4 linked regions of the Homo sapiens genome follow. The protein of the gene in region 3 purifies or fractionates together with the protein of the main gene of each other region. This does not show direct contact. Each region holds a gene or a part of one and is shown on either strand. Other genes may lie near its edges.

Region 1 (3,500 bases), on a different chromosome or scaffold from region 3:
TCCTGGGTTCAAGCAATTCTCCTGCCTCAGCCTCCTGAGTAGCTGGGATTACAGGTGTGAGTCACCATGCCTGGCTACTTTTTTTGTATTTTTAGTAGAGGCGAGGTTTCACCATGTTGGTCAGGCTGGTCTCGAACTCCTGACCTTGTGATCCACCCGCCTCGGCCTCCCCAAGTGCTGGGATTACAGGTGTGAGCCACCATGCCCAGGCTCTGACTCCTGTTTTTTAACCTTTGACTCCCACCTGCCTGCCTGGTTTCCAATGTCTCAGGAGTGATATTTTAAAAATTAATTTAAAATTAATTAATTTTCAGACAAGGTCTCGCTCTGTCACCCAGGCTGGAGTGTAGTGGTGCATCACAGCTCACTGCAGCCTCCACCTCCCGGGCTCAAGCAGTCCTCCCACCTCAGCCTCCCAAGTAGCTGGGACTGCAGACACGCAACATCACACCAGGCTAATTAAAAAAAATTTTTTTTCCTTTTTGAGACGGAGTTTCACTCTTGTTGCCCAGGCTGGAGTGCAATGGCACGATCTGGGCTCACTGCAACCTCTGGCTCCTGGGTTCAAGCGATTCTCCTGCCTCAGCCTCCCAAGTAGCTGGGATTACAGGCATGCGCCACCACGCCTAACTAATTTTGTATTTTTAGTATAGATGGGGTTTCTCCATGTTGGTCAGGCTGGTCTTCAACTCCCGACCTCAGGTGATCTGCATGCCTCAGCCTCCCAAAGTGCTGGGATTACAGGCATGAGCCACAGCGCCCAGCCGCAATTTTAAAATTTTTTGTAGAGATGGGGGTCTCACTCTGTCACCCAACCTGATGTGCAGTGGCATGATCACAGCTCACCACAGCCTCAACTTCCTGGGCTCAAGTGATCCTCCCGCCTCAGCCTCCTGAGTAACTGGGACTACAAGCAGCCCCACCATGCCCGGCCCGTCAGGCATGACTTCAGTCCACCTGGGAAATCCTCGAGCCCTCGGGGGCAGGGCAGGATGCTACCTCCGCCGGGATCCCCCCGACCAGCACCCCCAGGCCTACGAATTCACCAGGGGGCTCCTTTGAAATCTCAACCCACAGCACACAAGAGTCCTGGGCCCGGGCACCCACATGCAAATCCACAACAGGCCAGACACTGGGCTCACCAGGATGCGTTTCTTGACGTCCTCCATGCCGTAGTGGTCTTCCTCCAGCACTGCCTGTGCCCGCGCCAGGTCCAGGTTCTCGTTGCTGTACTTGCCCCAAGGGATGGACGTGAGCCAGTCTAGGTAGTTGCGGGTGACACTGCCAGGGGACAGATGGAGAGATGCTGAGTGGAGCTCACGAGCTGCCTGTCTCTCTGCTGGACTTGGCTGGGTGGTTGCAAGGGGCTTGAAACCCATGTGTGGGGCTGAGCGCGGTGGCTCACGCCTGTAATCCCAGCTCTTTGGGAGGCCCAGGTGGGAGGATCACTTGAGCCCAGGAGTTCAAGACCAGCCTGAGCAACTCAGCAAGACCCCATCTCTATAAAACAATTTACAGGCCAGGCACAGTGGCTCACGCCTGTAATCCCAGAATTTTGGGAGGCCGAGGCAGGCGGATCACAAGGTCAGGAGATCGAGACCATCCTGGCTAGCACGGTGAAACCCTGTCTCTACTAAAAATACAAAAAATGCTTCTGCCTCTGCCTCTGCCCTCTGCCTCTCCCCTTTCCACGGTCTCCCCTTTCCCTCTTTCCATGGTCTCCCTCTGATGCCGAGCCGAGGCTGGACTGTGTGCTGCCATCTTGGCTCACTGCAACCTCCCTGCCTGGTTCTCCTGCCTGAGCCTGCCGAGTGCCTGCGATTGCAGGCGCGCGCCGCCACGCCTGACTGGTTTTCCTATTTTTTTGGTGGAGACGGGGTTTCACTGTGTTGGCCGGGCTGGTCTCCAGGTCCTAACCGCGAGTGGTCCGCCGGCCTCGGCCTCCCGAGGTGCCGGGATTGCAGACGGAGTCTCGTTCACTCAGTGCTCAATGGTGCCCAGGCTGGAGTGCAGTGGCGTGATCTCGGCTCGCTACAACCTCCACCTCCCAGCCGCCTGCCTTAGCCTCCCAAAGTGCCGAGATTGCAGCCTCTGCCCGGCCGCCACCCTGTCTGGGAAGTGAGGAGCGTCTCTGCCTGGCCGCCCATCGTCTGGGATGTGAGGAGCCCCTCTGCCTGGCTGCCCAGTCTGGAAGGTGAGGAGCGTCTCTGCCCGGCCGCCCATCATCTGAGATGTGGGGAGCGCCTCTGCCCCGCCGCCCTGTCTGGGATATGAGGAGCGCCTCTGCCCGGCCGCGACCCCGTCTGGGAGGGGAAGAGCGTCTCTGCCCGGCAGCCCTGAGAAGTGAGGAGACCCTCTGCCTGGCAACCGACCCGTCTGAGAAGTGAGGAGCGTCTCCGCCCAGCAGCCACCCCGTCCGGGAGGGAGGTGGGGGGGTCAGCCCCCCACCCGGCCAGCCGCCCCGTCCGGGAGGTGAGGGGCGCCTCTGCCCGGCCGCCCCTACTGGGAAGTGAGGAGCCCCTCTGCCCGGCCAGCCGCCCCCTCCGGGAGGGAGGAGTGGGGGTCAGCCCCCCGCCCGGCTAGCCGCCCCGTCTGGGAGGGAGGTTGGGGGGGGGGTCAGCCCCCCACCAGGCCAGCTGCCCCATCCGGGAGGGAGGTGGAGGCGTCAGCCCCCCGCCCAGCCAGCCGCCCCGTCCGGGAGGGAGGTGGGGGGGTCAGCCCCCCGCCCGGCCAGCCGCCCCGTCCGGGAGGTGAGGGGCGCCTCTGCCCGGCCGCCCCTACTGGGAAGTGAGGAGCCCCTCTGCCTGGCCAGCCGCCCCCTCTGGGAGGGAGGAGTGGGGGTCAGCCCCCCGCCCGGCCAGCCGCCCCATCTGGGAGGTGTACCCAACAGCTCATTGAGAACGGGCCATGATGACAATGGCAGTTTTGTGGAATAGAAAAGGGGGAAAGGATTGAGAAATCGGATGGTTGCCGTGTCTGTGTAGAAAGAAGTAGACATGAGAGACTTTTCATTTTGTTCTGTACTAAGAAAAATTCTTCTGCCTTGGGATCCTGTTGATCGGTGACCTTACCCCCAACCCTGTGCTCTCTGAAACATGTGCTGTGTCCACTCAGGGTTAAATGGATTAAGGGCGGTGCAAGATGTGCTTTGTTAAACAGATGCTTGAAGGCAGCATGCTGGTTAAGAGTCATCACCACTCCCTAATCTCAAGTACCCAGGGACACAAACACTGCGGAAGGCCGCAGGGTCCTCTGCCTAGGAAAACCAGAGACCCTTGTTCACTTGTTTATCTGCTGACCCTCCCTCCACTATTGTCCTATGACCCTGCCAAATCCCCCTCTGCGAGAAACACCCAAGAATGATCAATAAAAAAAAAAAAAAAAATTAGCTGGGCGTGGCAGCGGACACCTGTAGTTCCAGCTACTCGGGAGGCTGAGGCAGGAGAATGGCATGAACCCGAGAGGCGGAGCTTGCAGTGAGCCGAGATCGTGCCACTGCA
Region 2 (2,268 bases), on a different chromosome or scaffold from region 3:
ACGCCTAGCTAATTTTTGTATTTTTAGTAGAGACGGGTTTTGCTGTGTTGGCCAGGCTGGTCTTGAACTCCTGACCTCAAGCAATCTCCCCACCTCGGCCTCCCAAAGTGCTGGGATTACAGGGCCACCAGCCAGGCCAAGGAGATGGGTTCTAAGGAAGCTCGCAGGGAAGGTGGGGCTGGGAAGGGAATTTGATGAGGAAGACAGAGCCCAGAAGGGCCTACGGTGTGAGAGAATGTGGCAGCCTCTAGAGAGAGACCCAAGATAGGAAGCCAAGAAGAAATCTGGGAAGGCCAGGCGCGGTGGCTCACGCCTGTAATCCCAGCACTTTGGGAGGCTGAGGCGGGCAGATCATGAGGTCAGGAGTTCGAGATCAGCCTGACCAACATGATGAAACCCCGTCTCTACTAAAAACACAAAAATTAGCCAGGCGTGGTGACGCGTGCCTGTAATCCCAGCTACTCAGGAGGCTGAGGCAGGAGAATAGCTTGAACCAGGGAGGCGGAGGTTGCAGTGAGCCGAGATCGTGCTACTGCACTCCAGCCTGGGCGACGGAGTAAGACTCCGTCTCAAAAAAAAAAAAAAAAAATCTTCTGGGAAAACAATAAATAAAGCCATATTTATTGATTTTTGAGACGCGGTCTCACTCTGTTGCGCAGGCTCAAGTGCAGTGGGAAAATCAGAGCTCACTGGAGCCTCGAACTCCTGGGCTCAAGTGGTTCTCCCAACTCTGCTTCCTAAAGTGCGGTGATTACAGGCCTGAGCCACCTTGCAGGCCCAAAACCATATTTATCAAATGAAAGCCACCTCCCAGAGTAGCCTGGATCTGGTTCCTAGCCCCAAAGATACCTCTGATGGGATCTAGAGACTTCCAGTAGGTTAAAGAACTCCCAGGAGACAGGCTGGAGAGATCTTTGTCTAAAGGCATGGTGGCTTATGCCTGTAATCCTAGCACTTTGGGTGGCTGAGGCAGGACTGGTTGCGCCCAGAAGCTCAAGACCAGCCTAGGCAACACGGTGAGACCACGTCTCTACAGAAAACGTTTAAAAAAAAATTAGCCGGGAATGGTGGTGCACGCCTGTGGTCCCAGCTACTCAAGAGGCTGAAGTGTGAGGGAGGATTGCTTGAGCCCTGGAGATCAAGGCTGCAGTGAACCGTGTTCGGACAACTGCACTCCAGCCTGGGTGACAGGGTGAGACCCAGTCTCAAAAAATGGAAATACAAATAAAAAAATAAAGTGGAAAAAAAAAATTTGGCTGTACCGCCAGTCGCTGGAATACGATGGGCTACCACTGCTAGATAGCTGATGGTTAAGAAAGTTCTGGGGTTGCCCCGCCCCTCAACGGGAGGGGCCTCCGAGCCACGCCCCTACCCAGATCCCTACAACCCTGGCTACCTGGAGGTTGCCCTGGGAGCCCAGTGGGGGCCTGAGGGGGCCAGAACCAGGGGGTCAGGACCTTCCCTCCCACGTCCCCCCAACCTTGTGCTATCAGTGCTCACTAAGCCTGAAGAGCCCTTTGGTGAGGGAGTAGGGGTCTCAGGGAGCCTGGGAACAGGAAGAGGGTTCTGGGGTCTGGGCCCTGGTCCTGGCCCAGCCTTGGGTCTGGGGTCCGGGGTTCAGAGTTCTCCGAGAGTCCTGGGATCACGGAGTGGGGGTGTCACAGTGTCACACTGCTTACATCACCCCTCTACAGCCACCCAAGAGCGTTCACTCACGGCGCGTGCAGGGCCCCAGGCCTAGGGAGCGAGCGGGGCGCTATGGGGGCCGGAGTCTGGGTCCAGGCCGCCCTCCTCCTAACCTCCCTTGGGTCCCCCCATCCCGCGGCCCTCTTCGGAGCGTGGCTCACCGGGCGTGAAGAGCGCGATGGCCTTGAGGCAGCCATACTCGGCCGAGTCGACCTGCAGGCGGCCCAGCTTGTCCACCTGCTCCTGGAAGGCGCGCACCTGGTCCATGAAAGCCACGGCGCGCTCGGCGGCCATAGGCGCGGCGTGGAGGCCGGCGGCGGCCAGTAGCGGCGCCGTGTGCAGGGGCAGCGCCGCCTGCGCCGCGTTCAGCACGAAGAGCTCGCTCCAGCTCAGGCGCAGCAGCGCCACCTGGTCGGCCACCGGCAGCTCGGGGAAGAAGGGCGCGTGGCGCGCCCACTCCACGGTGCTGAAGAGCAGCCGCGCCGCCAGCTCGCACACGTTGTCGATGCCCAGCACCGCGCCCGCCGCGCCGCCCCCTGCGCCGAAGCGTCCGGCCGCCGCAGGGTAGGGCTCAGCGCGCAG
Region 3 (3,500 bases):
AGTTCAAGACCAGCCTGCGCAACATAGCAAGATCCCGTCTCAAACAAACAACATTAAAAAAAAGAAAGAAAGAAAGAAAGAAAAAAAAATTATTCAGCTGGGTGTGATGGCTCACACTTGCAGTTCCAACTGCTTGGGAGGCTGAGGTGGGAGGATGGCTTGAGTCCAGAGTTTGAGACCAGTGTGGGCAACATAGCAAGACTCCATCTCAAAAACAACAACAAAAGAGTTACCTGGCCCAAAACAGTGCTAAAGCTGAGAAAACCTGTTCTATGTAGGAAGCACTCGAAAACAATTTGCTGGTAACATGCTGCATCTAGCACCTTTGGAGCTGCTCTAGATGTTAAAATCAGGTGTGTTGCAGAAGGTTGGGCTTGCCTTTGTCTTTCAGAGAAACTTTTAAGTACCTCAAGGCATTAAGAATTATAATTTCTAAGAGACTACTATTCTGCAAAGGCAATGTTAATCACAAATAAACACAATTTGGTTTTTTGGAAAATGACTGGAAAATATTTATCAAGTAACTTACAAATGTACATGCCTTCCTTCTGGGAACTGCTCCTACAAAAATGATTCCAAGATATTTACTACATTTTTCCGAATCATTTTATAAGGCCAGTATTACCTTGTTACCAAAATCAGACAAAGATATAGGAAGAAAAATATAGGTCAAGGCCGGGTGCAGTGGCTCACGCCTGTAAGCCCAGCACTTTGGGAGGCCAAGGCAGGCAGATCGCCTGAGGTCAGGAGTTCAAGACCAGCCTGGCCAACATAGAGTGAAACCTCATCTCTACCAAAATACAAAAAATTAGTTAGGCGTGGTGGTGCACACCTGTAGTCTCAGCTACTTGGGAAGCTGAGGCAGGAGAATCGCTTGAACCTGGGAGGCAGAGGTTGCAGTGAGCCGAGATCATGCCACTGCACTCCCGCCTGGGCAACAGAGCAAGACTCCATCTCTCAAAAAAAAAAAAAAAAGAAGGAAAAATATAGGTCAGTATGGGTTATGAATACAGAGACACAAAAATCCTTAACAAAATGCTAGCAAGCAAAATCCAGGAGCATATAAAAAGAATTATATACCAAGACCAAGCGCGATTTATCTCAGAAATATAAGGTTGGTTCAACATATGAAAATCAATCAATATACCATACTAATAGATGGGGAAAACCTCACATGATTTTCTCAATTGATACACAGAAAAAGCACTGGACAAAATGCAACATCCTCTCATGATTAAAAAAACATTCAACATACTAGAAACAGAAGGTAGTTTCCTCAACCTGATAAGGAGCATCTACAAAATACCCACACCTAACATCATACTTAGTGGCCAAAGACAAAGTTTTCCCTCTATGGTCAGGAATAAGACAAAGATGTTGGTTCTCAATACATCTGTTCAACATTGTAGTGGAAGTTTTAGACAGGCAATTAGGCAAGACAAAGAAAAGGCAACCAAACATGATCTTATATACAGAAAATCCTAAAGAATCCACCAAAAATCTACTGGACCTCACAAATGAATTCAGCAAGGTTGCAGGATACAAGATCAATATAGAAAAACCAGTTGTATTTCTATACACTGGTTCAGGCAATGAACAGCCTGAATATGAAAGAAAAGTTACATTTACAATGGCATCAAAAAGAATAAAGCACTCCTCTGGTCCTGCTCAGGCTCAGTTACAAAAAAAAAAAAAAAAAAGAGAAAAAGTACTTAGGAATATATTTAACAAAATTAATATATGGCGTGTACACAGAAAACTATAAAACACTGTTGAAAGAAATTACAGATTGAATGCAATCCCTATCAAAATTCCAAATGCCATTTTTTTAGCAATGGAAAAGCAGATCCTAAATTCATATTATGCAAGGGACCCAGAATACCCAAAATCATCTTGAAAAAGAACAAAGTTGGGATGACTCGCACCTCGCAATTTCAAAATTCATTACACAGCTACAGTAATCAAGACACTGTGTTACTGGCATATGGATAGAAATATAGATCAATGGAGTAGCATTGAGACCAGAAATAAACCCATATGCCTATCTATGGTCAACTGGTTTTCATCTAGGTGCCAAGACCATTCAATGAAAGAAAGAAGTGTCTTTTCAACTGCTGGGACATTTGAATATCAAACTGCAAAAGAATGAATTTGGATCCTTACTTCATACCATATGGGACAAAAATGAACCAAAATGGATCTCGATCTAAAACTATAAAACTCTTTGAAGGAAACAAAGGTATAAATCATCATGATCTTGATTAGGCAATGATTTCTCAAATATGACACCCAAAACTCACACACACTACATATATATATATACACACACACATACACACATAAATTGGGCTTCATCAAAATTGAAAACTTCCGTGCATCGAAAGACATTATTTAGGGCCGGACACAGTGGCTCACGCCTGTAATCCCAGCACTTTGGGAGGCTGGGACTGGCGGATCACTTGAGGACAGCAGTTCAAGCCCAGCCTGATAAACATGGCGAAGCCCCGTCTCTACTAAAAATACAAAAATCAGCTCGGTGTGGTGGCGGGCGCCTGTGGTCCCAGCTATTTGGGAGGCTGAGCCAGAACAATCGCTTGAACCCGGGAGGTGGAGGCTGCAGTGAGCCGAGATGGTGCCACTGCATTGCAGCCTGGGCGACAAGAGCGAAACTCCGTCTCAAAAACAAACAAAAAAAACTCCGTCTCAAAAAAAAAAAAGAAAAAGCTACACAAATAGCCAACTGGCACATGAAAAGATACCCAACATCATTAGTCCTTAGGTAGATGCAAATCAAAACCACAGTGAGATACCACTTTATTTATTTAATTTTATTTACTTATTCCCTCCTACCCCCCTTTTGGCTGAAGTGCAGTGGCGCGATCTCCGCTCCCGGCAACCTCCATCTCCCCGGCTCAAGCCGTCCTCCTGCCTCAACCTCGGAGTAGCCGGAATTACAGGCACGAGCCACAACACCAGGCTAATTTAAAAAATATTTTTGGCCTTCCGCCACGGCCGCCATGGAGAGCAGCAGCCATGGCTCTGCGCTACCTTATGGCCGTGGGCCTCAACAAGGGCCACAAGGTGACCAAGAACGTGAGCAAGCCCAGGCACAGCCGCCGCCGCGGGCGTCTGAGCAAACGCACCAAGTTTGTAGCGGGACATGATCCGGGAGGTGTGTGGCTTCGCTTCGTACGAGCTGCGCGCCATGGAGTCACTGAAGGTCTTCAAGGAGAAATGGGCCCTCAAGTTCATCAAGAAAAGGGTGGGGACGCACATCCGTGCCAAGAGGAAGCGGGAGGAGCTGAGCAAGGTACTGGCTGCCATGAGGAAAGCCGCTGCCAAGAAAGACTGAGCCCCCTCCCCTGCCCTCTTCCTGAAATAAAGAACAGCTTGACGGAAAAATAAAATAAAAATAAAAAATATTTTTGTAGAGACGGGGTCTCGCTTTGTTGCCGCCCAGGCTGGTCTCGAATTTCTGGCCTCCAGCGATCCTCCTGCCT
Region 4 (3,500 bases), on a different chromosome or scaffold from region 3:
CGGGTGGTGCCTGTGGATGAGCTCACGCGCTCTGCTGCTGCTTAGCCGTGTGCTCTTAAGCATGTTCATCTCATAGCTCTTTCTTCTATTGTAGAATGGAGATAAGCCATTGACCTCTTAAAGTTGTTGTTTTAAGTAGAGTTTATGCCTGGCACATAACGGGTACTCCATAAGTACTAGTTCCCTTTCTTCCATCTTGCCCTCACCCCCCACCCCCGCAACACACACACACAGAGGTTTTAAAACCGTTGTTAGTTAGAACTGGAAGAGATCCTGTAGCCCTGTACCCATAGTTGATTCCTTTGGAGACTGAGGCTCGGAGAAGGGAGTACTTAGCCCAAGCTCAGGTGGCTGGCAAGGAACAGGTGAGAGCACGGGGTCCCATGGCCTCCAGGACTGTGGCCTCTTTGTACACACTGTCCTTCGAGGTTTGCAGGGGCAGAATTGTCTCTTGTCTCTGGATCCCCAGCACTTACCAGGGTGTCTGCCACAGAGCTGGCTGTAAGAGAATATTTCCCAAGTGGATGGGTGGGCAGATGGATGTGCGGTGAAGGAACCCGTAGACGGGACTGGGAGCTGCTTTCCCAGTAAACCAAGCAGAAAACCATGTTGCAGGGAACCTAAGGTTGCAGGGAACCTTCGGGGCTGCCTGGCAGTGCTTTGAAGTGAGCGCCCTTCCCTGCTTCTCCCTGTCGGCGGGTCCCTGACCCTAGGAACTTAGAACTGAATTGAGAACATACGGCTTGTATCGACACAGGCCACACTATTAAGCTATGCTAAATGGGGAGGGCAGAGCACATCATAAAGGCCCAGGTAATGACCCTGACAGGAAGAGGTCCCGGTGGCCTGGAGAAGATGTGCAGGAGGTAGGACTTGAGTTGGGCCTTGAAGGCTGGAGGATTTCAGTGGACTGAAGAGGGAGGAAAGGGCATTTCAGGCTTGAGAAGCAGTTACAGGCGGGCCGATGGAGGTGGAGTGAGCAGGGTGAGTTGATGAGGCAGGAGGGAGCTTGGCTGCACTCTGTGCCATCTGTTTGTCTGGCACATCCTTTTCTTGTCAGCTCTCCATTTTCTATATAGGAGTTGTGTTGGATTACTCATAACAGACTCAGAAAAATGGCTACTCTAGCTCATGGTTTTCTCCTCCTCCAGTAATGGAACAGTCCAGGGTGGTATAGGAGCAACATTGGAAACCAAGCTCCTTCTACTCTCCCCTTCCAAGACTGGGTAATTTATGAAGGAAAGAGGTTTAATGGACTCACAGTTCTGCATGGCTGGGGAGGCCTCGCAATTATGGCAGTAGGCGAAGGGGAAACAAAGGCACATCCTACATGGTGGAAGGCAAGAGAGCTTGTGCAGGGGAATTACCATTTATAAAACCGTCAGGCCAGGTGCAGTGGCTCATGCCTGTAATCCCAGCACTTTGGGAGGCAGAGGTGGGCAGGTCGCCTGAGGTCAGGAGTTTGAGACCAGCCTGGCCAACATGTTAAACCCCATCTCTACTAAAGATGCACAAATTAGCTGGGCATGGTGGTGGGCGCCTGTAATCCCAGCTACTTGGGAGGCTGAGGCAGGAGAATTGCTTGAACCCAGGAGACAGAGGTTGCAGTGAGCTGAGATCGCACCTGCGCTCCAGCCTCAGCAACAGAGTGAGACTCCATCTGAAAAACAACAACAACAAAAAACCCATCAGATCTCTTGAGACTTATTTACTATCACGAGAACAGCCCCCATGATTCAATTACCTCCCACTGGGTACCTCCCACCAGGTCCGTCCCATAACACATGGGAATCATGGGAGTTATATTATTCCACCCCCAGGCCCTTCCAAAGCACAAGTCCTCACATTTCAAAACCAATCATGCCTTCCCAACAGTCCCCAAAAGTCTTAATTCATTTCAGCATTAATTTAATAGGCCACAGTCCAAAGTCTCATCTGAGACAAGGCAGGTTGCTTCCACCTATGAGCCTGTAAAATCAAAAGCAAGTTAGTTACTTCCTAGATACAATGGGGGTACAGGCATTGGGTAAATACACCTGTTTCAAATGGGAGAAATTGGCCAAAACGAAGGGGCTACAGGCCCCATGCAAGTCTGAAATCCAGTGAGGCAGTCAAATCTTAAAGCTCCAAAATGATCTTTGACTCCATGTCTCTCATCCAGGGCACGCTGATGCAAGAGGTAGACTCCCACGGCCTTGGGCAGCTCTGCCTCTGTGGCTTTGGTAGGGTACAGTCCGTCATCCTGGCTGCTTTCACAGGCTGGCATTGAGTGTCTGTGTGTTTTCCAGGGCAGGGTGCAAGCTGTCAGTAGATCTACCATTCTGGGGTCTGGAGGACAGTGGCCCTCTTCTCACAGCTCTACTAGGCAGTGCCCCAGTGGGAACTCTGCCTTGGGGCTCTAACCCCGTCTTTTCCTTCTGCACTGCCCTAGCAGAGGTTCTCAATGAGGGCTCTGCCCCTGCAGCACACCTCTGCCTGGACATCCCGTTGTTTCTATACATCCTCAGAAATCTAGGTGGAGGTTTCCAAACCTCCATTCTTAACTTCTGTGCACCTGCAGGCTCAACACCACATGTGAACCGCCAAGGCTTGGGGCTTGTACCCTCTGAAGCAGCAGCCTGGGTTGTACATTGGCGCTTTTTAGCCATGGCTGGAGGGGCTAGGACACAGGGCACCAAGTCCCTAGGCTGCACACAGCAGAGGGGGCCCTGGATCTGGCCCAGGAAACCATTTTTTCCTTCTAGGTGTCTGGACCTGTGATGGGAGGGGCTGCTGTGAAGGTCTCTGACATGCTCTGGAGACATTTTCCTTATTGGCTTGGTGGTTAGCATTTGACTCCTAGTTACTTATGCAAATTTCTGCAGCCAGCTTGAATTTCTCCCCAGAAAATGGGTTTTTCTTTTCTACTGCATCATCAGGCTGCAAATTTTTCAAACTTCTGTGCTCTGCTTCCTCTTGAATGCTTTGCCACTTAGAAATTTCTTTCACCAGATGCCATAATCATGTCTCTCAAGTTCAAATTTCCATAGATCTCTAGGGCAGGGGCAAAATGCCACCAGTCTCTTAGCACAGCAAGAATCACCTTTACTCTAGTTCCCAGCAAGTTCCTCATCTCCATCTGAGACCACTTCAGCCTGTACCTTATTGTCCATATCACTATCAGCATTTTGATCAAAGCCATTCAACAAGTATCTAGGAAGTTCCAAACTTTCCCACATTTTCCTGTCTTCTTCTGAGCCCTCCAGACTGTTTCAACCTCTGCCTGTTACCCAGTTCCAAAGTTGCTTCCGCATTTTTAGATGTCTTTACAGCAATGCCCCCCTCCCAATACCAGTTTACAGTATTAGTCTGTTCTCATGCTGCTGATAAAGACATAACCAAGACTTGGTAATTTATAAAGGGAAGAGGTTTAGTGGACTCACAATTCCACATGTCTGGGGAGTCCTCATAATCATGGTGGAAGGCAAAGGAGAAGCAAAGGCATGTCTTACATGGCAGCA

The links. Proteins that work in one complex are often made in the same cells at the same time.
Region 1: the proteins of DCAF4 (region 3) and LONP1 purify together in Homo sapiens (affinity purification with mass spectrometry; 2 studies listed by BioGRID and IntAct, with this or other methods). This does not show direct contact.
Region 2: the proteins of DCAF4 (region 3) and NR2F6 purify together in Homo sapiens (affinity purification with mass spectrometry; one large-scale study listed by BioGRID and IntAct). This does not show direct contact.
Region 4: the proteins of DCAF4 (region 3) and NEIL2 purify together in Homo sapiens (affinity purification with mass spectrometry; one large-scale study listed by BioGRID and IntAct). This does not show direct contact.

Annotation. Positions count from the first base shown.
Region 1 is NC_000019.10:5,699,647-5,703,146, forward strand, and holds part of LONP1 (lon protease homolog, mitochondrial isoform 1 precursor), read right to left. Parts: intron 1,282-3,500; coding exon 1,143-1,281; intron 1-1,142. UniProt on the Homo sapiens protein: ATP-dependent serine protease that mediates the selective degradation of misfolded, unassembled or oxidatively damaged polypeptides as well as certain short-lived regulatory proteins in the mitochondrial matrix.
Region 2 is NC_000019.10:17,233,652-17,235,919, forward strand, and holds part of NR2F6 (nuclear receptor subfamily 2 group F member 6), read right to left. Parts: coding exon 1,848-2,268; intron 1-1,847. UniProt on the Homo sapiens protein: Transcription factor predominantly involved in transcriptional repression.
Region 3 is NC_000014.9:72,929,464-72,932,963, reverse strand, and holds part of DCAF4 (DDB1- and CUL4-associated factor 4), read right to left. Parts: intron 3,400-3,500; exon of another isoform or gene 3,208-3,399; coding exon of another isoform or gene 3,144-3,207; exon of another isoform or gene 3,000-3,143; intron 1-2,999. UniProt on the Homo sapiens protein: May function as a substrate receptor for CUL4-DDB1 E3 ubiquitin-protein ligase complex.
Region 4 is NC_000008.11:11,772,710-11,776,209, forward strand, and holds part of NEIL2 (endonuclease 8-like 2), read left to right. Parts: intron 1-3,500. UniProt on the Homo sapiens protein: Involved in base excision repair of DNA damaged by oxidation or by mutagenic agents. Has DNA glycosylase activity towards 5-hydroxyuracil and other oxidized derivatives of cytosine with a preference for mismatched double-stranded DNA (DNA bubbles).